7 linked regions of the Homo sapiens genome follow. The protein of the gene in region 4 interacts with the protein of the main gene of each other region in a pairwise test. Each region holds a gene or a part of one and is shown on either strand. Other genes may lie near its edges. The genes, in order: METTL2A, NOL4, MTG2, MAPK6, THAP4, OSTF1 and GLRX3.

Region 1 (2,994 bases), on a different chromosome or scaffold from region 4:
TATATAAATTTATTATTCCAAAATTTAGAAAAACATCAACAAGGTGAAAGCTAGGCATCTTTGTTTCTGAGATGCAGTTTCGCTCTTGTCACCCAGGCTGGAGTGCAATGGCACCATCTCGGCTCACTGCAACCTCTGCCTCCCAGGTTCAAGCAATTCTACTTCAGCCTCCTGAGTAGCTGGGATTACAGGCGCCCACAGCCATGCCGGGCTGATTTTTTATTTTTTAGTGGAGACGGGGTTTCACTATGTTAGCCAGGCTGGACTGGAACTCCTGACCTCAAGTGATCTGCCCACCTCGGCCTCCCAAAGTGCTGGGATTATAGGCATGAGCCGCCACGCCTGGTCGAAAAGTCCTTACTTTCTAAAATTAAGGATATATCCTATAACTGCATGGATCAAGAGAGAAATATGTAAAAATAACTGAAAAAATGCAGAACATAAAAAAAAAGGATCTAACAATTAGCTAGGCATGATGGTGCCCACCTGCAGTCCTAGCTACTCAGGAGGCTGAGGCGGAGGGATGGCTTGAGCCAGAAGTTTGAGGTGATAATGAGCTATCATTGCACCACTGAACTCCAGCCTGGGCAACAAAGTGAGAGCCCTGTCTCCTTAAAAAAAAAAAAAAAAAAAAAAAAAAAAAGGCATCTAACACTGATAATGATCACATTCAGAAGTGAAGTGATGATGTGGTTAAAATTAAGAAGTTCCCTCAATTCCTTTTGTGTCAAACACTTAAGGGTGCATTAAAAAAGATAATTTTGCAAAAAGTGAAAATTCTTTTCTTTTTTTTTTTTGAGACGGAGTCTTCCTCTGTTGCCCAGGCTGGAATGCAGTGACATGATCTTGGCTCACTGCAACCTCCACCTCCCAGGTTCAAACGATTCTCCTGCCTCAGCCTCCCGAGTAGCTGGGACTACAGGGGACTACAGGTGTGTGCCACCATGCCCAGCTAATTTTTTTGGTATTTTTAGTGGAGACGAGGTTTCACCGTGTTGGCCAGGATGGTCTCGATCTCCTGACCTCGTGATCCGCCTGCCTCAGCCTCCCAAAGTGTTGGGATTACAGGCATGAGCTGCCGCACCCGGCCAAATTCTTTTAATTCTTTAGACACAGGTTAGAGGGGGAACAATGCTTAAAATTCCATGGAACTAAGATTTTTTTTTTATTTTTATTTTTTTGAGACAGAGTCTTGCTTTGTTGCCCAGGCTGGAGTGCAGTGGCACAATCTCAGCTCACTGCAACCTCTGCCTCCTGGGTTCAAGCAATTCTCCTGCCTCAGTCTCCCAAGTAGCTGGATTACAGGCACCCACCAACACACTCAGCTAATTTTTTTATCTTTAGTAGAGACGGGGTTTCACCATGTTGGCCACGCTGGTCTCCAACTCCTGACCTCAGCTGATCCGCCCGCCTTGGCCTCCCAAAGTGCTGGGATTACAGGTGTGAGCCACCGTGCCTGGCGGAACTAAGATTAAAGCGAAGACCACGATCAATTACTTAACAAGAACACCACATTTTGATGCTCTCTGTAGGGTCATTTTTTTTTGTCAGGAAAATATCTGATCTGATTCTTCCCAGCTTGCTTCCCCTACAACTTAATAAGCCCTTCACTAACCTCTGTATGTATTAACTGCAATTGCCTAGCCCGGCATTTACATTCTCAAAAGATTTAACGCAATTACAGTCAAAAAACACTTGTCATATGTAACACTTTTTCACATGGAAATAAATTGGTGGTTTAAGGTTTACAATTCCTTTGAATAAAATTTCAGTTATTAGTTACAAAATGCTAAGACAGATTGAGATCTCAAAGAAAGAACTTGAGAAAATTATGTTTTAAAGGACTTCACAAATATGAAGCATAATTGTTAGAATCCTGATACAAAGTAACTTTTCCTAGGTTTAAGGTTCAAGTCTGAATTCTTGAATTGTCCAACATCAACGAGACCTCATTTATATTTTTTATTTTTATTATTACTTTCAGATACAGGGTCTCTCACTATTTTGCCCAGGTTGGACTGCTGGGCTCAATGGATCCTCCCCGCCTCAGCCTCCTGAGTGGCTGGGATTACAGGCATGCACCACGCCCAGTGCTACAATTTTTTTTTTAAAAAAGCCCGGAAACACAATGGGCTTGCATCGTGTTGGCAGCAGGTGCCTCTCAGCTGGTGCTGGACAGAAGGGGCTTGCAGTATTTGCACTGAATCCAAACCCGGTACATTGTCAGTTGCTTTCCTCGGTTCACCTGCAGTCGGCGATCCACCAGGTTCTGAACTTTTTCCAGTCCAGCAGTGGTGAAAAGCGTGTCCAGTTCCTCTAGTGTGGAAAATAAAAGATGTTTATGCATTTTTCCCCTCAAGAAAAGGCATTTTTATCTACTAAGTCCTTGTTAAAAGGGGCTCTGGGAAGTTGCTGTCATGTTTTTTACATGGCCATTTGGTTATAAATGCAGTGGTGGCTTGGTAACAGTAAGTTCATGTTTAGGTAGGGGAAGCCACTGCGTATGGGCCGCGGTTTTTTCTTTTTTAAAAACCTTTGGTTTATATTTGGCCTTTAGGCTCTATGAACACCTTAAAATTTATGCAAAAATATCTATGTATGTCAAAGCAATTGTTTTAGGAAAGTGGTTTCATCATCTTAACCAAAGGCTCAAAGAAGGTGACCCTGAAAAGGGCCCAGGAACGGAGAATTTGGAAGGCCCAGGTGAAGGATGAAGCCTGTGGATAGGCCAGTTGCAGAGGAGAGCAGTTCCCAGCACCCCTAGAACCCAGGGTTCACCCTGACCCGGGCACACCAAAGCACAACCCCGTGTAGAGGGTGAAACAGGCTGGACTGGAGATGAGCCTTGCAGAGTGGGCAGGCTTCCCATTTTGGACAGTGGCAGACAGGGAGAGCAGAGCAGGACTGAAGGCATGGACAAGCCAGGGCTGCCTGGGGGCCCCAGTGCCTGGCTGCCATGGGTAGCCTAGCCCAGGGTGGAAGAGGGTGTGAGCA
Region 2 (3,500 bases), on a different chromosome or scaffold from region 4:
AAAGACAAATTCTGTATGATTCCACTTATATGAGGCATCTAAAGTAGTTCAATTCATATAATCAGAAACTAAAATGGCACTTCACCAAGTGATGGAGAGAAAGGAAAAAGGGGAACTGTTGTATAATATAGTTTCTGTTATGCAAGATGAAAAAGCTCTGGAGATCTGTTGCAAGACAATGTGAATATACTTAACACTACTTAAGTCTACAATGTAAAATGATTAATATGGTAACTTTTATGTTGTGTGTTTTTTTTATCACAATTAAAACACATAGTTGGATGGATGGACAGTTGGACAGATAGATATAGATGTAGATAAAACTAAAAAGCTCTTGTGTGGTGGTAAATAAGAAGCTGTTGTATAATGTCCCATTATGTCATGTCAGATTGGGAAGTGATTTTTATTTATTCCATTAATACTGAACATCAAAATGCATCACCCATTATGCCAGGTACTGGAGATTAAATCTTTCTTCAAAATAGTTTTGTGGAAATTTAACAAATTATTAAGCAATAGGCATATTTTATTATATGGTGAGAATCTGATGGCTTCAAGAAATATTAGTTTAGTAGAATCAACCAACAGTTGAACATTGACTATAAGAGGGAGAAATCAAGGCTGCCATACAAATTTCACCTTGTACAGGTAAGTAAAGTTGTGCTGCTATCCATGGAGAGAGGGAATAAGAAAAAGATGTGTCAGCTCGGAGGACCTCGGATGGGAAAATGGAAGGAAGAAAAATGTGTTTCTAGACATACTTAATTTGAGATATTTTGGGATATCTTGGTGAAAACACCCAATAGAAAATCGAAAATACAGCTGACCCTTGAACAACCTGGGGTTAGGTGTACTGACACCCTCTGCCCCTGAAAACCTGCATATAATTTTGCTCCCCCAAAACTTAACTACTAATAGTCTACTGTTGACTGCAAGCCTTAGCAAAAAGATAGTCTATTAAGCCATAAATAGACTAGTGCCTGCATAGATTTTAAGCATTCATGGCATATATTTTTCTTAGATTTTTTATATTTCTAGATTATGCAGTTTATCTGAGAGTTTTTTCAAATTGTTATATATTTCCAAAAATTTTCCAAATACTTATTGAAAAAAATCCACATACAAGTGGACCCAGGCAATCCTGACCTGTGTTGTTCAAGGATCAACTGTACAGATTTAGACTTCAGAAGATATACATTATGTCACCAGAACACAGGCCTAACTGAAGTCATAAACAGGGGCACAGTTACGCAGGACAAAATATAGAGTTAGACAAGAAATTCAAATATATCTTAGCAAAATAATTTAATTTCAAGGATAAAGAAGTAAACAATTCATGAAATTTGGGAAAATCAATTTGCCTTAGAATTTTACAGAGCACACACAATATCTATAATGTTCTGAGAGAAAAAGTAAAATACAGAATCTGCATCTGGTTAGTTGTCCTTCAAGGATAAAGGTAAAAGACAAATACTCTCAATTGTATATAAAATTCAAAGAATAGAGTGCATGGACCTACTTTAGGAAAAAAATGATAAACTGTAATTAGAGTCAATCAAATCAAGGAATTCAGAGGTAAAGGAAACCAGATAACAAAACAGATAATAAACATTTAAATAGGAAAATAATGTTTAAAATGAAATTACATAATTTAACATTAATATCAACAACCCTGACAACACAAACATAATTATAATATAATGAATATAATAAATTATAATATATAATAAGTATAATATAATAAGTGAAATGAAATGTAAACCAGGATCTAAGAAACAAGGAGGTGGGAAGAAGTGAAAATATGCTTCTCATTTATCATTAGAGAAAGTCAATAATACTTATAAAACGGAAATTTGTAATTGGTAAAATAAGTGTAATTCAACATCTTAAAGTTTTTCTTAATCTTTTCCATTAACTTCAGGAATAAATATCTTTGAGAAGAAACATTTATCTATTAGCAATTCATTAAATTTTATGTATTTCTTCTTTTGTCGCATTGACAATCTTATATTTTCTTATTCTTACTTAAATTAGCATATCATCATCATCCTAGTTTTAGAAAATTATTTCTGCCTGTCCATATGCAACTATCAGTCATTTTATCGACTCTTCTTTTGGCATATATTTCTAGAGAGGAATCTAGAATGATGTTCATAATTAGCTTACGGTGATTATATTTTGATGGGACATTTGGTATGACTTTTTCTTTATTTCTTTCCTTTTCATTTAACTTTTTTAAAAAACTGAGACAGTATCACTTTTACAATAACAGTCATTTTTTCTTCCAAAAATGGAGTAGGTAGAATAAATCTTAATAATACATATGTACATAAATACATACAAGTATACCTTGTATTTCTTTCTTTTTTTTTATTTATTTATTTTTTTTGAGATGGAGTCTCACTCTGTTGCCCAGGCTGGAGTGCAATGGTGCGATCTCGGCTCACTGCAACCTCCGCCTCCCGGGTTCAAGCAATTCTCCTGCCTCAGCCTCCCGAGTAGCTGGGACTACAAGGGCACATGGCCACACCCAGCTAATTTTTTTTGTATTTTAGTAGAGATGGGGTTTCACTGTGTTGCCCAGGCTGGTCTCAAACTCCTGAGCTCAGGCAATCCGCCTGCCTCAGCCTCCCAGAATGCTAGGATTACAGGCATGAGCCACCGCGCTTGACCTTGTATTTTAGCTCCGTGTTGCAATGTGATTTTGAGTTCATAAAATATACCTAATTATAATTACATCGTGATTTTCATGTTCTATGAATCATATTTTAAGCAACTTTTTTTTTTAGCATTTACTATGTCCCCGGCATATGCTACATATACCACATGCTTGTGTGTATGTGTGTGTATATGTATGTGTATATATGTGTGCATATGCATATATAGTATATGTTAGTATATATTATATACACTACTAACTATGCAAAACTAGTAAGACTAGTATTAATACTAACATTTTACAAGAGGAAACTGCATCTTTAGTTAAACTTTAGCCGACCCAGAACTCCAGTAAACGTCAGAGCCAGGATTTAAATTGTGCTGTAAAATCAACACTCTACTCACTATGCCATGTTTCTTGCCATCTATGCTATCCATGAAGTTTGTTTTATCTTGTTATATAAAGATTGTAAAAATGAATATAACCTAAAACATAGTAGATTCACATTCATCTTTCCCAGTTAGACCAAAAAAAAAAAAACAAAAAACAAAGAGTGAAAGTCTTAGCAAACACAACAGCTATTAGGAAAAGGTCTTTATAGACTTGACACAAAATTAAAGTCCTTGAAAGTTCTCCTGCCATATGCCTGTATTTTCTACTTCATCATTCCTCCGTCTTATGCAGTGAGTCTAGAGAGTAAACCCGTAGGGAGCAGGATCCCAGCAAACTAAGGAAGATTACAGAAGAAATATATACGAGTGCCAAATCTTGCCCCATCTCCCTATTGTGGCTACTAATAGGACAAGGAAGAACCAACGGAAAAATAAAAAACTGGTATCTC
Region 3 (3,500 bases), on a different chromosome or scaffold from region 4:
TTCGAGACCAGCCTCGGCAAAATAGCAAGACTCCTGTCTCTACCAAAGGAATTAGCTGGGCATGGTGGCGCACCCCTATAGTCCCAGCTACTTTGGAGGCTGAGGTGGGAGAATCACTTGAGCCCATGAATTCAAAGCTGCTATGAGCTATGAATATGCCACCGCACTCCAGCCTGAGCAATAGAATGAGAGAAAGAGACACTTTTTTTTCTTTTTTTTTTTTGAGACAGAGTCTCACTCTGTCACCCAAGCTGGAGCACAGTGACATAATCACAGCTCATTACAGCCTTGACTTCCTGTACTTAAGAGATCCTCCTGCCTCAGCCTCCTGAGTAGCTGGGGCTACAGGTAAGTGCCACTGTGCCTAATTTTTAAATTTTTTTTGCAGAGACAGGGTCTCCCAGTTACCCAGGCTGGTCTCAAGCGATCCTTCTGTCTTGGCCTCCCAAAGTGCTGAGATTACAAGCATGAGCCACCACACCTGGCCTGAGACCCTGTCTAAAAATAGAAAAATAAAAACAGTAAAGACATAAAATCTGAACAATACTATCAAAACATTTATCTAGTTGACATTTACATAACAGTACATCCAACAACTGTACAATATACACTGTTTTCAGGTACAGGTGGAAGTCATCAAACAGACCATAAGATGTGTCATAAGTCTCAATACATTGAGAAGAAATCATAGTCAGTCCTCCGTATCTGTGGGGTCAACAAACCTCACGTCAAAAATATCTGGAAAACAAACAAAAAAACCAGTAACAATACAACAATTTTTTTAATTTAAAAAATAAAGTATAACAGCTATTTACATAGCATTTACATTGTATTGTACTATAAATAATCTAGAGATTACTTGAAGTATACAGAAAGGCCCGGTACAGTGGCTCACACCTGTAATCCCAGCAGTTTGAGAGGCCAAGGCAGGAGAAAAACTTGAGGCCAGGAATTTGAGAACAGCCTGGGCAAAATAGCGAGACCTTGTGTCTACCAAAAAAAAAAAAAAAAAAAAAAAATTAGCTGATTAGCTGGACATGGTGGTGCATGCCTATAATACCAGCTACTTAGGAGGCTAAGGTGGGAGGATCACTTAAGCCCAGGAGTTGGAGGCTGCAGTGAACCATGATCACACACTGCACTCCAGCCTGTGTGACAGAGCTTCTGTGGTGGGGCTGGGGGGAAGTATATGAATACCAACCACAGGGTCTATTCTCGGAATTAAATTGGAAGTCAATAGCTAGAAAATATCTAGGAAAATCCCAAATACCTGCAAATCAAACAAGCTTCTTCTAAATAATCCATAGGCCAAAGAAGAAATCAAAAGAGAAATTACAAAATGTTTTGAACTGAATTATAATGGAAATGCAAAATACCAGAATTTTTTTTTTTTTTTTTTGAGACAGTCTCGCACTGTCGCCCAGGCTGGAGTGCAGTGGTGTGATCTCGGCCCACTGAAAGTTCTGCCTCCCGGGTTCACGCCATTCTCCTGCCTCAGCCTCCCGAGTAGCTGGGACTACAGGCGCCCGCCACCATGAAATACCAGAATTTAAGAGATGCAGCTAGAGTAGTGTTTAGAAGGAAACTTACAGCTCTAATGGCTACCTTGGTAAAGAAGAAAGATCTAAAATCAGTAACCTAAGGCTCCAAATCAAGAAACCAGAAAGAGCAAAGTAAGCGTCGAGTAGAAGGAGGAGAATAATACAGAGCAGAAATAAAGAGACAACAATAACATGTAACAGAAAAAAACAGGTTCACTGAAAAGACAAGCTAACTAACACACTTCTAGCCTGATCAGGAAAACGAGAGAGCGCAAACCTCCACTGTCAGGAATGTTCAACGGGTTATCAGGACACACCTTACAGACAGCCAGAGGGCAAGAGAATGCTGGGAACGACTTCATGCCAGCAAATTCAGTAACAAATTCAACTTACATGAAATGGACAAATTTCTTGAAAAAGGCAACTTATTAAAGAAACACAAGAATAAACAATCTAGAATAGCCCTGTATCTACTCAATAAGTTAAATTTCTTATAAAAGAACACTCCCCAAAGGAAAACTCTAGCTCGGCTTGTTTTCCTGGTAAATTCCATGTAACATTCCAGGAAGAAACAGTGCCAATCTTACACAAGCTTTTTCAGAAAATAGAGGAAGTGAGATCACTATCCAACTCATCCTATGAGGCTAGTACCAAAATCTGACACTAAGAAAAAATAAAATTATAGACCATACCCCTCATGAATATAGATGCAAATAACTCTTAACAAAATATTACCCAATTGAATCCAGCAGTTCAGAAAGGATCACACATCAAGACCTAGTAGGGGTAATCTCAGAACACAAGGCCACATCAAGCAGTCAAAACTCAGCCCAGGCACTTCACTATATCAACAGGTGGTACCACCGTCTCAACACCCACTCATGAGGAGGAAAACAAAACATCTCAGCAAACTGGGAACAGACGGGAACATCTTCGCCCTGATAAGGGCACTACGTAGGGCCGGCCGACAGCTAATCACATTTAATGAAGAAATACTGAATGGTTACCTCCCAAGATGGAGAAAAAGGGCCTCCACACATACCACTGCTATGCAACAATGTCCTTTCACACACTGAAATAAAGGGGGAAAAAAGGAAGAAGTAAAACTGTCCCTGTTTACAGAAGAGAGGACAGAGTTCCACAGAGAATCCCAGGGAAGGCTGGGCACGGTGGCTCATGCCTGTAATCCCAGCACTTTGGGAGGCCGAGGTGGGCGGATCATTTGAGATCAGGAGTTCAAGACCAGCGTGGCCAACATGGTGAAACCCCATCTCTACTAAAAATATAAAAATTAGCCAGGCGTGGTGGCACGTGCCTGTAGTCCCGGCTACTCGGGAGGCTGAGGCAGGAGAATCGCTTGAACCTGGGAGGCAGACGCTGCCGTGAGCCGAGATCACGTTACCGCACTCCAGCCTGGGTGACAGAGCAAGACTCCATCTCAAAAAAAAAAAAAAAAAACAAAAAAAAAAGTCCCAGGGAAGGGAACTGAGCAAGATGGCATGTTATCAGGCTAATATAAAAAAATCAGTTGTATTCTTAAATACCAGCCGCAAACAACTGTAAATTAAAATTAAGAAAAAACCCCATTTATGGTAGTGCCAAATACAAAAAGTACCTGAAAATAATTTCACAGTAAACCTTCAAGACCTCTACCTCACTACTTGCAAAATACTGTTCTAAGTATTTTTCAGGGATTAACTCATTCAGTCCTCATAAAACTCTGTGAAGTAAGTCCTTCATCATCCTCATTTTAAAGTTGCGGAAACTGGGCAGACAGGTGAAGAGACTTAACCCAGAGCTATCAGATGGGAAGGCTCAGGGGTGGTGCATAAAAACAGGTTGGGGAAAAACAACTCGGGCTCATCAACACAAGCATAGCCACGGCTCAGCCTGCTGGAACGTTACACCATCCAGCCCGGATATTCTGGAAACCAGGCTTCCTGATGCAGGTGACATGGA
Region 4 (3,500 bases):
TAAAAATACAAAAATTAGCCAGGCGTGGTGGTGTGCGCCTGTAATCCCAGCTACTGGGGAGGCTGAGGCAGGATAATCACTTGAACCCAGTAGATGGAGGTTGCAGTGAGCCAATATTGCGCCACTGCACTCCAACCTGGACGACAGCGAGACTCCGTCTCAGAAACAAAAAAAAGCATACAGTATAACAAGGTGTAAAGTAGAAGGAAAACAAGAACATATGTCTCATAAAATGAGAAGTAGATGAATAGGCCGAAAACAGTGGTCAACTATATTGAATGCTCCTACAAGAGCCTGTAAGACTAATTTAGTAAATAGAAACCACTGGCAACCTTGACTAGAGTAGTTTTAGTGGTAAGAATGGAGGCCAATCTGTAGTAGGCTGAGAAGCAAAGGGAAGTGGAGAGAGCACAAAAAGACAACTTTTGAAAACTGGCTTGGAAGAGAATCAGAGAAATGAGGCTGTAGCTAGAGAATAATGTGGAATGGCGAGAGGGCTTATAAACAAGGAAGCCACACTTAGTGCTGTCCAATAGTGTTGTCTGCAATGATAGGGATGTTCTATATCTGCACTGTCCAATAGAGCAGCCATTAGCACCATATATGGCTACTGAACAACTGAAATATGACTAGCATCACTGAGGACCTAAATTTTTTAAATTTTTCTTTTAACAGCCACACATTTCATTGCAGAAAGCACTATTGATTAGTAGCTACCATACTGGACAGTACAGCCCTAAAGCACATCTGCATATTAATAAAGATAATCCAGAAAGGGAAAAATTCATGATGTAGGCAAGAACGAGGTAAGTCCTTAAGAAGTCAACAGGCTGGCAGGGTGCGATGGCTCACTCCTGTAATCCCAGCACTTTGGGAGGCCAAGGCAGATGAATCACTTGAGGTCAGTAGTTCAAGACCAGCCTGGTCAACACAGAGACGAATCCGTCTCTACTAAAAATACAAAAATTGCCGGGCGCGGTGGTTCACACCTGTAATCCCAGCACTTTGGGAGGCCGAGGCGGGCGGATCACAAGGTCAGGAGATCGAGACCATCCTGGCTAACACGGTGAAACCCTGTCTCTACTAAAAATACAAAAAATTAGCCGGGCGTGGTGGCAGGCGCCTGTAGTCCCAGCTACTCGGAAAGCTGAGGCAGAAGAATGGCGTGAACCTGGGAGGCAGAGCTTGCAGTGAGCTGAGATCGCACCACTGCACTCCGCCTGGGCAACAGAGCGAGACTCCGTCTCAAAAAAAAAAAAAAAAAAAAAAAATACAAAAATTAGCCGGGCGTGGTGGTGGGCACCTGCAGTCCCAACTACTCAAGAGGCTGAGGCAGAAGAATCACCTGAATCTGGGACGCAGAGGCTGCAGTGAGCCAAGATCGTGCCACTGCACTCCAACCTGGCCAACAGAGTGAGACTCCATCTCAAAAAACAGTAAATAAATAAATAAATAAATAAATAAATAAAGAGAAATCAACAGGCTGAGCAGAGTGGCTCATGCCTGTAATCCCAGCACTTTTTGAGGCCGAGTCAGGATGATTGCTTGAGCCCAGCCTGGGCAACACAGGGAGACCCCGCCTATAAAAAAAAAAAAAAAAATTAAGATTAAAAAAAAAGTCAAGAGAAGACATCCAGAGCACAAATGGCACAATCTACATGGGATACAACATGAACAAAGCAAGGCATGAAATTACAGTAACGGGTAGAGATGAAGACTCAGAATATGTATTAAGCCTGATTGGAATCTTAAGCATAAAACTCAATTACAGAGGGCTATAAAATCCAAGCAGGAGGGGGAGGGTAGGTAACTTACATCTACTAAGGACCTATTATGTGACAGGCATTTTCTTTTTTTTTTTTTTTTTTTGAGAGGGAGTCTCGCTCTGTCACCCAGCCTGGAGTACAGTGGCACGATCTCGGCTCACTGCAAGCTCCGCCTGCTGGGTTCAAGCAATTTTTCTGTCTCAGCCTCCCGAGTAGCTGGGATTACAGGCATACGCTACCATGGCCAGTTTTTTCGTATTTTTAGTAGAGATGGGGTTTCACCACGCTGGCCAGGCTGGTCTTGAACTCCTGACCTTGTGATCCGCCCGCCTCGGCCTCCCAAAGTCCTGGGATTACAGGCATTAGCCACCGCGCCCGGCTGTGACAGGCATTTTCTTTTTTCAAGACAGAGTATTGCTCTGTCGCCCAGGCTGGAGTGCAATGGTGTGATCTCGGCTCACTGCAACCTCCGCCTCCTGGGTTCAAGCGATTCTCCTGCCTGGGCCTTCAGAGTAGCTGGGAGTACAGGTATGCACCACCATACTCAGCTAATTTTTTGTATTTTAGTAAAGACGGGTTTTCATCATGTTGGCCAGGCTAGTCTAGAACTCCTGACTTTGTGATCCGCCTGCCTCGGCCTCCCAAAGTGCTGAGATTACAGGCATGAGCCATCGCGCCCAGCCATGACAGGCATTTTCTAAATGACAAATTATTTCTCTCATCTCAAACTACAGTCTTGTAAATGTCATTTTACAAACAAGAGCACTGATGCTCTTTACACACACAGTAAATGCCAAGATTTGGACATAGGCCTGTGACTATAGGGTTAGAATCTTCCCACTGCATAAGGTGGGAGGTTAAGGCCAGGCACGGTGGCTCACGCCTGTAATCCCTGCACTTTGGGAGGCCGAGACGGGTGGATCACTTGAGGTCAGGAGTTCAAGACCAGCCTGGCCAACATGGTTGAAACCCCATCTCTACTAAAAACATAAAATTAGCTGGGCGTGGTGGTGCATGCCTGTAATCCCAGCTACTTGGGAGGCTGCAGCAGGAGAATCACTTGAACCCAGGAGGCGGAGGCTGCAGTGAGCGAAGATCACACCATTGCACTCCAACCTGAACAATAAGAGCAAAACTCCGTCTCAAAACAACGACAACAACAAAACAAAAAAAGGTAGGAGGTTAAGAACCACTGTTTCGGTACCTGGAATTAACATAAACAGCAGATCAATCTGGAAGTAATCAACAAGTGCCAACAAGCCTAGAGGGACTAGGCCAGAGGCAAAAACTATCCTGCCAATGCTTTCCACAGGATAACTAAGGAAAACTTAATAGCTACTTTTTAAAAATTCAAGTGAAAATACCTGTTAAGATGGAAAGAAACTGACTTGCTTACAACTTAGATTATCTACTTTATTGAACACAGATGTATCAATTAGAAAATCAGCACTGTTTTATAATACATACTGAAATAATATCTGGGCATATTAGAAAAACTAAGTCAACATACTCTCTCTCCAATTTGTACATTAAGAAAGGACAATTATTAAACTGAGTCTAACCAGTTATTAAATTACAGCTTAGATTTTAGAGTGGGCAAAGATCATCTAGATCTGTGCTGTCCATGTAACCACCAGCTACATCCAACTATTTTTATTTTTTTTTGAGACGTAGTCTTGCTCTGTCACCCAGACTGGAGTGCAGTGGCGCTCACTGCAAGCTCCGCCTCCTGGG
Region 5 (3,500 bases), on a different chromosome or scaffold from region 4:
CCCAACCTGTTTTCCAGCAATTCCTAATGAATGCACACAGCTGATGGCCATTTCTGCAGACGTGGCACTGGGTAAACGGGCCCTCATGGTCAGGGGGCTGCACGCACACAACCTGTGTGCCGGAGGCCCCTACAGCTACACAGTCGGCCCCGCAGGCTCCCAGGACCACTCTCAACACTCAGGGCCATCCCCACGGTCCCCACCAGCACATGCCTCAGCAGGGTTGCACATGGGCATCCCTGCACCCCTGCTTCGAATGCAGGCAGCAGCCTCCCATGGCCAGCCCTCCCGCCCCGCAAGCTGGGCCTCACCTGTGTTCTGGGCGCTGACAAAGGCCACCTTGTTGGTGTCGGGCTTGAGGCGAATGAAGCCACACTCTCTGTGCATCGGCTTGCGCGTGTCCGGGTGGAAGGAGTTGAACCTGGACGGGAAGTTGGAGTTGAGAAGCCCAGGCACTGGCCTCCAAGATGGCGTGGGCTGCGTGGATGCCAGAACTGTCCAGGGTGCCCTCCAGGTGGCTGCTCCAGCCACACCCGCACACCTGTCTGCCCCTACCACCACCTTGCTCATTTTGGCTGTGTCTGTCTTACCTGCTGACCCTCCACTCCTGAAGACGGGCTGTTCCAGCCACGCCCACACACCTGCCCGCCCCCTCCACCACCTTGCTCATTTTGGCTGTGTCTGTCTTGCCTGCTGACCCTCAGCTCCTGAAGACGGGCTGTTCCAGCCACACCCGCACACCTGCCCGCCCCCTCCAGCGCCTTGCTCATTTTGGCTGTGTCTGTCTTACCTGCTGACCCTCAGCTCCTGAAGACGGGCTGTTCCAGCCACACCCGCACACCTGCCCGCCCCCTCCACCACCTTGCTCATTTTGGCTGTGTCTGTCTTGCCTGCTGACCCTCAGCTCCTGAAGACAGCACTGTTCTTAATCACCTCAGGGCATATCCTTGCCCTGGGCCCGTTAGCCCAGGCCTCACACAGTGTCAGCCCTCAGCACTCCCTTGCAGTAAACCTCACCCTAACACAATCTTTCTCTTTTGAGCTATGCTCTTGTGTAAGAATCTAATCAATTCCTACGGTAAAAAACAGAACAGGTGCTGAGTTATGGTATGGTTTCTTATCACCCTTCATCATTAGTGCAAATTCTCAACAGTAAAAGACAGGCACCTGCATCTTGAACTGAGGGCACAAAACCACGGCTTAAAAACTAACTCGCTGGCATGGTGACTCAAGGCCGTAATCCCAGCACTTCAGGGGCCCAGTCGGGTAGATCTCTTGAGCCTAGGAATTTGAGACAGGGCTGGGCAACACAGACCCTGTTTCTACAAAAATAAAAACAAAAAAACCAAACCAAAAAAAAAAAAGCCTCATTTATCATTTCACCAACCTTATGAGTTTCTATAGGGAATCCATCTCTATGATTCTTAGAGATAAACTTTATTTATTTATTTTTTTGCTCTGTCACCCAGGCTCGTCGCGGTCTCAGCTCAGTGAAACCTCCGCTTCCTGGGTTGAAATGATTCTCCTGTCTCAGCCTCCTGAGTAGCTGGGATTACAGGCGCCCACCACACCCGGCTAATTTATTTATTTATTTATTTATTTATTTTTTGAGACAGAGTTTCTCTCTTGTTGCCCAGGCTGGAGTGCAATGGCGCTATCTTGGCTCACTGCAACCTCCGCCTCCTGAGTTCAAGCGATTCTCCTGCCTCAGCCTTACCGAGTAGCTGGGATTACAGGCATGCGCCACCATGCCCGGCTAATTTTGTAATTTTAGTAGAGACCAGGTTTCTCCATGTTGGTCAGGCTGATCTTGAACTCCCAACCTCAGGTGATCTGCCCACCTCAGCCTCTCAAAGTGCTGGGATTACAGGTGTGAGCCACTGTGCCCAGCCACACACCCGGCTAATTTTTGTATTTTTGTATTTTTTTTTAGTAGAGACACAATTTCACCACATTGGCCAGGCTGGTCTCGAACTCTTGACTTCTAGTGATCCACCTGCCTTGACCTCCCAAAGTGCTGGGATTACAGGCGTCAGCCACCGCACCTGGCCAAGATAAACTTATTTATTTATTAAAACAAATTTTTTTAGGGTCTCACTGTGTTGCCCAGGCTGGTCTTGGACTCCTGGACTCAAGTGATCCACCCGCCTTGGCCTCCCAAAGTGCTGGGATTACAGGCACGAGCCACCGCGCTGGGCCAAGATAAATTTCTGTTGGGCTAGTGATGGTGCTACACCTTCTAGAATGGTACATGCTCACTAACATAACCCCGACAAAGAAATACATTTATACCATATTCTAGGACACACACACAAACACACATACCATCACATTTACTGAAATATATTTTCCACTCTGGTTCATTTTTCTTCGAATGCTAGTCACAAAATTGACTTTCTGACCTTTTCGTGGGTTATAATCTATAGTTTAAAAAAGACTGCTTGGGTTCTGGGTTATTTTGTATTACCCAGAATTCTCACCTTTTGGTTTATGTGCAGATGTATTACTTTGACCTCATGCATTCAATCAATAATAATATAAAAAGGTAGGAGATATTTTTAAAAACAATGAGATCTTCTAAAAGGGGATGGAGGGTCTCAGAGCTGGGGGTCTGAGAGCCAGGTGCCCAGCCCCGTTCTGAAACTGCTAGGCATTATACAAATAGTACCAAGTTGGTTTAATAAGATTCTTAACATATAGTTGTGTAATGGAGACTAAGGGAGGGTTTGCTTTTTATATTTTGTTTAAACTTTAAAAAAACTGTGTATTACTTCTATAATTAAAAAATAAAGATACTTCAACCACTCCCCATCCCTGGTGGCTCTCCTCTACTTCAGAGGCCTACACTGCTATCTCCCTAAAAGCAGGCAATTTCTCCACCTGTGGGGAGCAGGTGGTGGGAAGGGATACTGAGGGACCTCAAGGGGCTTTTGCTTTCTTGTACGGTAAGAATATGAGAACCACATACTAACAGCTTCCTTGTGACCCCAAATAGCTCAGGGGTACGTGTAAAATACAAACATGCACTATTATTTTCAGTAATATTGGGTGACTAATTTTTTTCTTTTTTTTTTTGAGACAGGTTCTCACTCTGTCACCCAGGCTGGAGTACAGTGTTATGATCACAGCTCACTGTAGCCTTGGCCCTCCCTGGGTTCAAGCAATCCTCCCACCTCAGTTTCTCGAGTAGCTGGGACTACAGGCATGTGTCACCACACCTGGCTAAATACTTTTCAGTAGAGACAAGGTCTCACTATGTTGCCCAGGCTGGTCTTCAATTCCTAAGCTCAAGCAATCCTCCTGACTCAGCCTCTAAAGTGCTGGGATTACAGGTATGAGCTACCGCACTGGCCAGGGTGATTAATTTTGATACATAAATTAAGTACATGCATTTGTTTTTATGTTTGGATTAACAAGCCTGTAATTTGGTGGTCAGCTTAATATCTCCAAAAATATAACAGAACCAGAAAGTATCATTTTTACCACTCTGTGTCTCAGTT
Region 6 (3,500 bases), on a different chromosome or scaffold from region 4:
TAAATTCTAGACATCATATTATTTCATTTGTAAATATTTCAGTACGTATCTCTGAAAGACACATACTTTTTGAAAGGCAATTATAATGCCATTATCACAGCTTAAAAGTTTTTTCCAACAATAATTCCTTAATATCATCAAATATCTAGGTCGATACTCAAATTTCCCAACTGCCCCATAATTTGGGACTCAAATAAGGGCTATACAATATGATTGATTTGTCTTTAAGTATCTTTTAATCTATAGGTTGTCTCTCCATTCTTTTTTATCTCTTACAATGTATTTGTTGAAGAATCCAGTTGGTTTGTTCTGTAGTGTCAACCTCTATGGATTTTGCCTGTTGTATCCCTGTGTTATCATTAAGCATGTTCCTCTGTTCCCTGTATTGCCTATAAATTGGTCATCAGTTCTAGAGGTTTAATTAGATTCAGCTCCAATTTTTTTTGGCAAGGCTATTTCCTAGGCAGTATTGATTTCTTCCATTAGGAAATGCAAACTATCTAGTCGGCTTCTTTTTGTAATGTTAGTAGCCCTTGATGATCATTGTCTAGATCCACTATTTCCTAGAGGCTGCAAGATGGTGACATTCTAATTCTATCATTCCTTCTTCATTGAAATAACCTGAATACCTCTTTAAACAAAAACTTCCTCATCAGCTCTCAGATTGCCCAGGTAAGAAATTCATAAAGAAAACACAGAATAAATGGTGATTCTTTCCCTTAACAGTTGTCAGAATAAAAACCTGATTTCCTAGCATTCTCTCATGCTGACCAATGAGATTTCCTCAGAAGTAACATTAGAAACTCATAAATTTAAATGTATTTAATGGGTTTCAATTCTTGGAAGTTGTTGCCCTAATTGATGCTCAAATTGTCCTATCTTTGGCCAGTGGGAGTCTCTTCAAGTTCGTTCCCAAGTCCTTTCAGTGTGACCCTACTGTCTTTAGGAGCTTCCATGTTTTCTAATAAGAGGATGTTCTGGGTTTATCTTGTACCTCTGCTGCCCCTGACTTGGTACCAGCCATTTCTCAAAGAAGCCTGTACATTTCAATGGAAAATAACATATTATTATTGGGTTGGTCATTTTTCCTAGGCCCTTTCAAAGAACACAGCAGGGAATATTTTTGTTTTATTTTAGATAAAATACAATGTGATCCTTGCAATTCAGATGAAGGAATACAGAGTTTTTCTTAAACTGTCATTAATCTTACATCTGTGTATCCTTTTTGCTATGCTGAAAATCCGTTAGCAACATCACCGACCTAATTACTCATTTGCTCTAAACCACAATACACATGCAACAATCTCAGAATTAGCAATACCTACATTTCCCTAACAAGGGCATGATTTAAAACAATTTACCCTTTTTTGGCCATTTCTTTTTGTCCATATATATATATGGACAAAATATATATATATATATATATATATATGGACAAAATATATATATATATATATATATGGACAAAATATATATATATATATATGGACAAAATATATATATATATATATGGACAAAATATATATATATATATATGGACAAAATATATATATATATGGACAAAATATATATATATATGGACAAAATATATATATATATGGACAAAATATATATATATATATATATATATATATATATATATATATATATGTCTTTCATACATATCCATATTCTACTATGGATGTTCAGTCAAATTGCTGAGTTTTAAACTTGGAATATTTCCTCTCTGTGTGGTTAGGCCAATTACCAGGGTACAATTAAGTTCATTTGATTCATTCTGCTTTTAATTTTTAGGGATTGCTTTTTACTTCAATTTTTAACCATGTCAAGGTTTACATCAGTTCAAAGTCAAATCCACAAAACAAGGTATAATTTTCTAAAAAGTCTATCTTCCATCTATGTTCATTATACCCTATTTCTCTCCTTCCACCTAGAGAAAGGATCTTTACTCTTCATAGAATAAAACTAAATTTTACTTTGCAACTCATCTTTCAACTTTTTATCTGAAATTGAGAAAAACAAGTGTCTGCATGTATGTGTGTGTACACATACACTCTCACCCTTTCCTAGAAAACTGAGGATATATTATCTACATTTTCTCACTTTGCTTTTTTTTTCACTTAAATTACTTCATAATAGCATATAGAGATATTCCCCATTTCTTTCTACAGCTGCATAATATTCTGTTTGTGGCTAGACCAAAGCTTATTCAACTCTTTCCCTATTGATGGAAATAAGGGCTATTTTCAATCTTATGCTACTATCAATTGTGCTAAAATGAACAGACTTGTACATATGTATTTCTATGTACATATATATTTAAATAACTTACAATGTTATAGCTACATAAAACAGTCTTTATATGTGGTATTACAAGATGTTATCTGGACTTACCATGTCAGTAATGTAGATAATATCACCTTCCTCAAAGTATAATTCATCTGGCTAGAAGAAAAAAAAAAGTTTGACTCCATGTGATTTTTCATGAATTAGAATATGATTATATAGATTCAAAATTCTATCATATTCTAATAAGCAATGTGGTTTTATACACTTAAATCAGCACATAAGCCATATAATAAAACACTACTGAAAAATTAACACATGAATAGACGGCTAGATTTTTTTCCCATGATGAACTTCAAAGAATTACATATATAAAGATTCTCCACACACATCTTGCATTCTTCTACAACCAAAGCAAGACATTTGTATATCAAAATAGAGTATTAATAAAACTTCTTCCTTGTAGAAATTCTAAAAGGTGGTATACATTTTTTCATAAAAATATAAATGTCTAGAATTAGAGTCATGAAAAACAGCCAGAAGCTTGATTTTCTCTTAAACAAGGCCTCAATCCTTGAACACTTTAAGATCAACATCTGCTATCTGCTCATTTTAAGAAAATCATTATCCTAGCTCTTCATGTTCAGGGAGAATGAACATTTTCTGTATGAGAAAAGTTAATATGTAATTCAACCATTAATAAGGCTAAAGAGCTAAAAGATATGAAGCAGTAACTCAGCCAGTCCAGAAACCCCAAGCAGCTCTAAGGAGTTGGCTAATTACACAGACCATATGTGCTCTGGCCTGTACCAACCAAATGTTCTAAAAACTTTCTGAGGCCAGGTGCGGTGGCTCATGCCTGTAATCCCAGCACTTTGGGAGACCAAGGCAGGTGGTTCACAAGGCCAGCAGTTCAAGACCAGCCTGGCCAAGATGGTGAAACCCCATCTCTACTAAAAATACAAAAATTAGCTGGGCATGGTGGGGGATGCCTGTAATCATAGCTACTCGGGAGGCTGAGGCAGAGAATTTCTTGAACCCGGGAGGCAGAGGTTGCGGTGAGCTGAGATCACGCCACTGCACTCCAGCCTGGGTGACAGAGCGAGACTCCGTCTCAAAAAACAAAACAAAACAAACAAACAAACAAAAACAACCAAAAAACACTTTCTGAATAAAGATACACATTTTAAACATCTTTTGACCATCAGTAGATA
Region 7 (2,891 bases), on a different chromosome or scaffold from region 4:
ATAACAACTCACAATTTTCTCAGGACACTAGATTAGCTGAGTAACTAAATCATCATTCAGTCCCTCATTCAACAAAACAAACGCTCATTGCTCCAAAGAGGCCAGCCAGATTAGACCATTTCAAACATCTTTTAATTGAACTGAACATGAAGAACTGCATTCTGCAAGAAACAGATCAAAATGGGATCGTAAGATCTATTCCATATATCTTCTCAAGGAAAAACGTTAACAATATCACACATTTCAAACGTATATGTTCTTAGCAGGTGAACATAAAAAATCATATAACACTCTGTTATATAACTAAAAAGAAGTTACCCACGCAGCTTAGCTTTAGAATTAAATGAGATTTATTGATTGTATCTTCCCAAGAGTTACCAATGGCTAAGGTACAGGCTATAAAACATTCAGACAAGAACAGGCTCAAGAGTATTTGGGGTTTGAGTATTCTTTGTGTCTTACAAAAATAAGACTATATATATATATATAGAGAGAGAGAGAGAGAGAAAGAGGGAGGGAGGGAGGGAGGGAAGGAGGGAGGGAGGGAAGAAACAAATGCAGATCTGTTTCTGCTGCTTCAGGGCTATTCAAGAGCAATAGTCTTAAAAATTTTTTCCTCCAGGAGTGAGACCATTCCCCAGGAAAAATGTCTCACTGGCTTGTTTAAGAAGTATGATATCAAACCTGGAACTCCACAGGAAACAAAACCTACACAGAGGCCACCAAAGGACAAAAAGAGCCTCTGCATCAATGGAACTCAAGCTTTGTTTTTATAAAACATATTGGTCCAAAGTGCTGATGTCATTTCAGTGGTAGGCTAGTGCTTCACTTTACAAAAGCACGTGTTAAAAACTTTTATTTTGGCCAGGCGCGGTGACTCATGCCTGTAATCCCAGCACTTTGGGAGGCCAAGGTGGGCGGATCACCTGGGGTCAGCAGTTCAAGACCAGCCTGGCCAACATGGTGAAACCCCATCTCTACTAAAAATACAAAAATTAGTGGGGCGTGGTGGCGGGTGCCTGTAATCCCAGCTACTCAGGAGGCTGAGGCAGGAGAATCACATGAACCTGGGAGGCAGAGGCTGCAGTGAGCCGAGATTGCACCATTGCACTCCAGTGGGGAACAAGAGCGAAACTCTCTCAAAAAAAAATGTAAAAAAAAAAAAAAAACTTTTATTTTACAACATAACTAGAAGTAGTACTACTTGCTATTTGTTTTCCACATAAAAAGTCGAAGATCTGACCTCAGAAAATTCTCTCATGGATTGAGGCAAGAGGAAGGCCTGAGGGCAGTCAGCAACCCACTTTTCGGGGCAGTTTTGTTCATGCCCCTGAGCAGACCCTGGCATTCCTGCCCAGCATTCCTGTCTAGCTCCTCTCTATACCCAACCAGCTACCACCCTCCTCGATGCCACCATGCCCACAGTGGGCCTGGGGTGCAGTGGGGTCTGTGTGTAGATATTAAAGCTACAGCTTCTGTTTATTGTTTTGGGCTAATCAAAGAGCTACAGAGCACACAGGTGTTAGTTGGTGGGCCTGCCCTGAATTCTAGACATTAAATACATGCAAAGTAACGTCCATTTAAAACTCAATCAAGAAGTAAAGTCACTTATCCATCCAACAACCATTTACTGAACTCCTAAAATACACAAAGCATCAGGAAGGACTCAAGATACATAAGAAATGGTGTCTTATCTAAAACACAATCTAACAGATAACAGATTTCCAAGCATCTCAAAACCAAAAAGGACCTACATTTTTTCTTTCGGGGGACCAGGGGCAGTGATCCTCAGCCTCTGTGGCAAGGATGGGCAGCACCGGGCCACAGGCCTCACACTGCTGTCACTCCATGCACCCAAGGGCAGATGAGTAAGGCAAGAAAAAACAATTTGTTGTCTGGGAGCTGAAGCAGGATCTAACAAGGACCCTGAGTGACAGGGAAGATCACCCCACAGAAAGGAGATGCAATGGTTAGCTCAGGTGTGAAAGTAAGAACAGGCTGCCACGTGGGGACAGTGAGAATGGCAGGGTAGTCATGCACACAGAAACGGTGATACTGGTCTAGAAATGTCTGAGAGTCAGGCTGGAAACAGGAGTCAAAAACAACTCTCAAGTTTCCATTCAATATGAAATCATTTTTAAACATACCAAAATCTTTTCCGTTCTTTAGAACAGCAGAAGAACTGGCCTTACCTTCACAATATCCAATCCTCCCACCAGCTCCCCTTTCACATACAGCTGAGGGTATGTTGGCCAATTTGAGTAAGCTTTTAATCCTTGCCGAACCTAAAGAAACAACAGGAATCCTGAAACCATCCTATCAGGCCCTTAAGATTAAAGCTAAGACAAGGGTGAAACATCAAACACAGAACTTACTTCTTCATCCTCCAATATATCGAATGTTTCATATTCAACACTGCAAAAAAGAGAAGACATTTTAACTGGAAATACAGTTAAATCAAAGTGTAAAACCTCTATGCATTTGATGTTTTTAAAATAATCAAGAAAACCGTTTCACTGCTAACAAAATGTACTACAGACCAATGGAAATGATTTTACTTCTTAATCTGTCTGGTACTACACAGAATTAGTCATTCCAACATATGACTTTATCTGGATTTTTCTCCGGACAATATTGGGTTAGACCAGGGGTGGGCAAACTTCTTCTTAAAGAGTCAGACACTAAACACTTCAGGCTTTACAGGCCAGACAGTCTCTGCTGCAACTGCTCAGTTCTGCTCTCTGCTGCAACTGTCAGCATAAAAGCAGCCACAGACAATGTATAAATGAAGGGATGTGGCTATGTGCCAATATAACTTTATTTACAAAAATGGGCAGCCAGCTGCAACTTGCCAACCCCTGGATCAGACCCACACCCCCATCTGCACGAGC

What was found.
Region 1: the proteins of MAPK6 (region 4) and METTL2A interact in a two-hybrid assay, tested with the Homo sapiens proteins (one large-scale study listed by BioGRID and IntAct).
Region 2: the proteins of MAPK6 (region 4) and NOL4 interact in a two-hybrid assay, tested with the Homo sapiens proteins (one large-scale study listed by BioGRID and IntAct).
Region 3: the proteins of MAPK6 (region 4) and MTG2 interact in a two-hybrid assay, tested with the Homo sapiens proteins (one large-scale study listed by BioGRID and IntAct).
Region 5: the proteins of MAPK6 (region 4) and THAP4 interact in a two-hybrid assay, tested with the Homo sapiens proteins (one large-scale study listed by BioGRID and IntAct).
Region 6: the proteins of MAPK6 (region 4) and OSTF1 interact in a two-hybrid assay, tested with the Homo sapiens proteins (one large-scale study listed by BioGRID and IntAct).
Region 7: the proteins of MAPK6 (region 4) and GLRX3 interact in a two-hybrid assay, tested with the Homo sapiens proteins (one large-scale study listed by BioGRID and IntAct).

Annotation. Positions count from the first base shown.
Region 1 is NC_000017.11:62,447,897-62,450,890, reverse strand, and holds part of METTL2A (tRNA N(3)-cytidine methyltransferase METTL2A), read right to left. Parts: intron 2,317-2,994; coding exon 2,162-2,316; 3' UTR 1-2,161.
Region 2 is NC_000018.10:34,214,914-34,218,413, forward strand, and holds part of NOL4 (nucleolar protein 4), read right to left. Parts: intron 1-3,500.
Region 3 is NC_000020.11:62,186,028-62,189,527, reverse strand, and holds part of MTG2 (mitochondrial ribosome-associated GTPase 2), read right to left. Parts: intron 995-3,500; exon of another isoform or gene 690-994; coding exon of another isoform or gene 647-689; intron 20-646; exon of another isoform or gene 1-19. UniProt on the Homo sapiens protein: Plays a role in the regulation of the mitochondrial ribosome assembly and of translational activity. Displays GTPase activity. Involved in the ribosome maturation process.
Region 4 is NC_000015.10:52,025,719-52,029,218, reverse strand, and holds part of MAPK6 (mitogen-activated protein kinase 6), read right to left. Parts: intron 1,581-3,500; exon of another isoform or gene 1,346-1,580; intron 1-1,345. UniProt on the Homo sapiens protein: Atypical MAPK protein. Phosphorylates microtubule-associated protein 2 (MAP2) and MAPKAPK5.
Region 5 is NC_000002.12:241,602,659-241,606,158, forward strand, and holds part of THAP4 (peroxynitrite isomerase THAP4), read right to left. Parts: intron 422-3,500; coding exon 312-421; intron 1-311. UniProt on the Homo sapiens protein: Heme-binding protein able to scavenge peroxynitrite and to protect free L-tyrosine against peroxynitrite-mediated nitration, by acting as a peroxynitrite isomerase that converts peroxynitrite to nitrate.
Region 6 is NC_000009.12:75,126,514-75,130,013, reverse strand, and holds part of OSTF1 (osteoclast-stimulating factor 1), read right to left. Parts: intron 2,446-3,500; coding exon 2,395-2,445; intron 1-2,394.
Region 7 is NC_000010.11:130,174,391-130,177,281, reverse strand, and holds part of GLRX3 (glutaredoxin-3), read right to left. Parts: intron 2,416-2,891; coding exon 2,376-2,415; intron 2,286-2,375; coding exon 2,193-2,285; intron 1-2,192. UniProt on the Homo sapiens protein: Together with BOLA2, acts as a cytosolic iron-sulfur (Fe-S) cluster assembly factor that facilitates [2Fe-2S] cluster insertion into a subset of cytosolic proteins.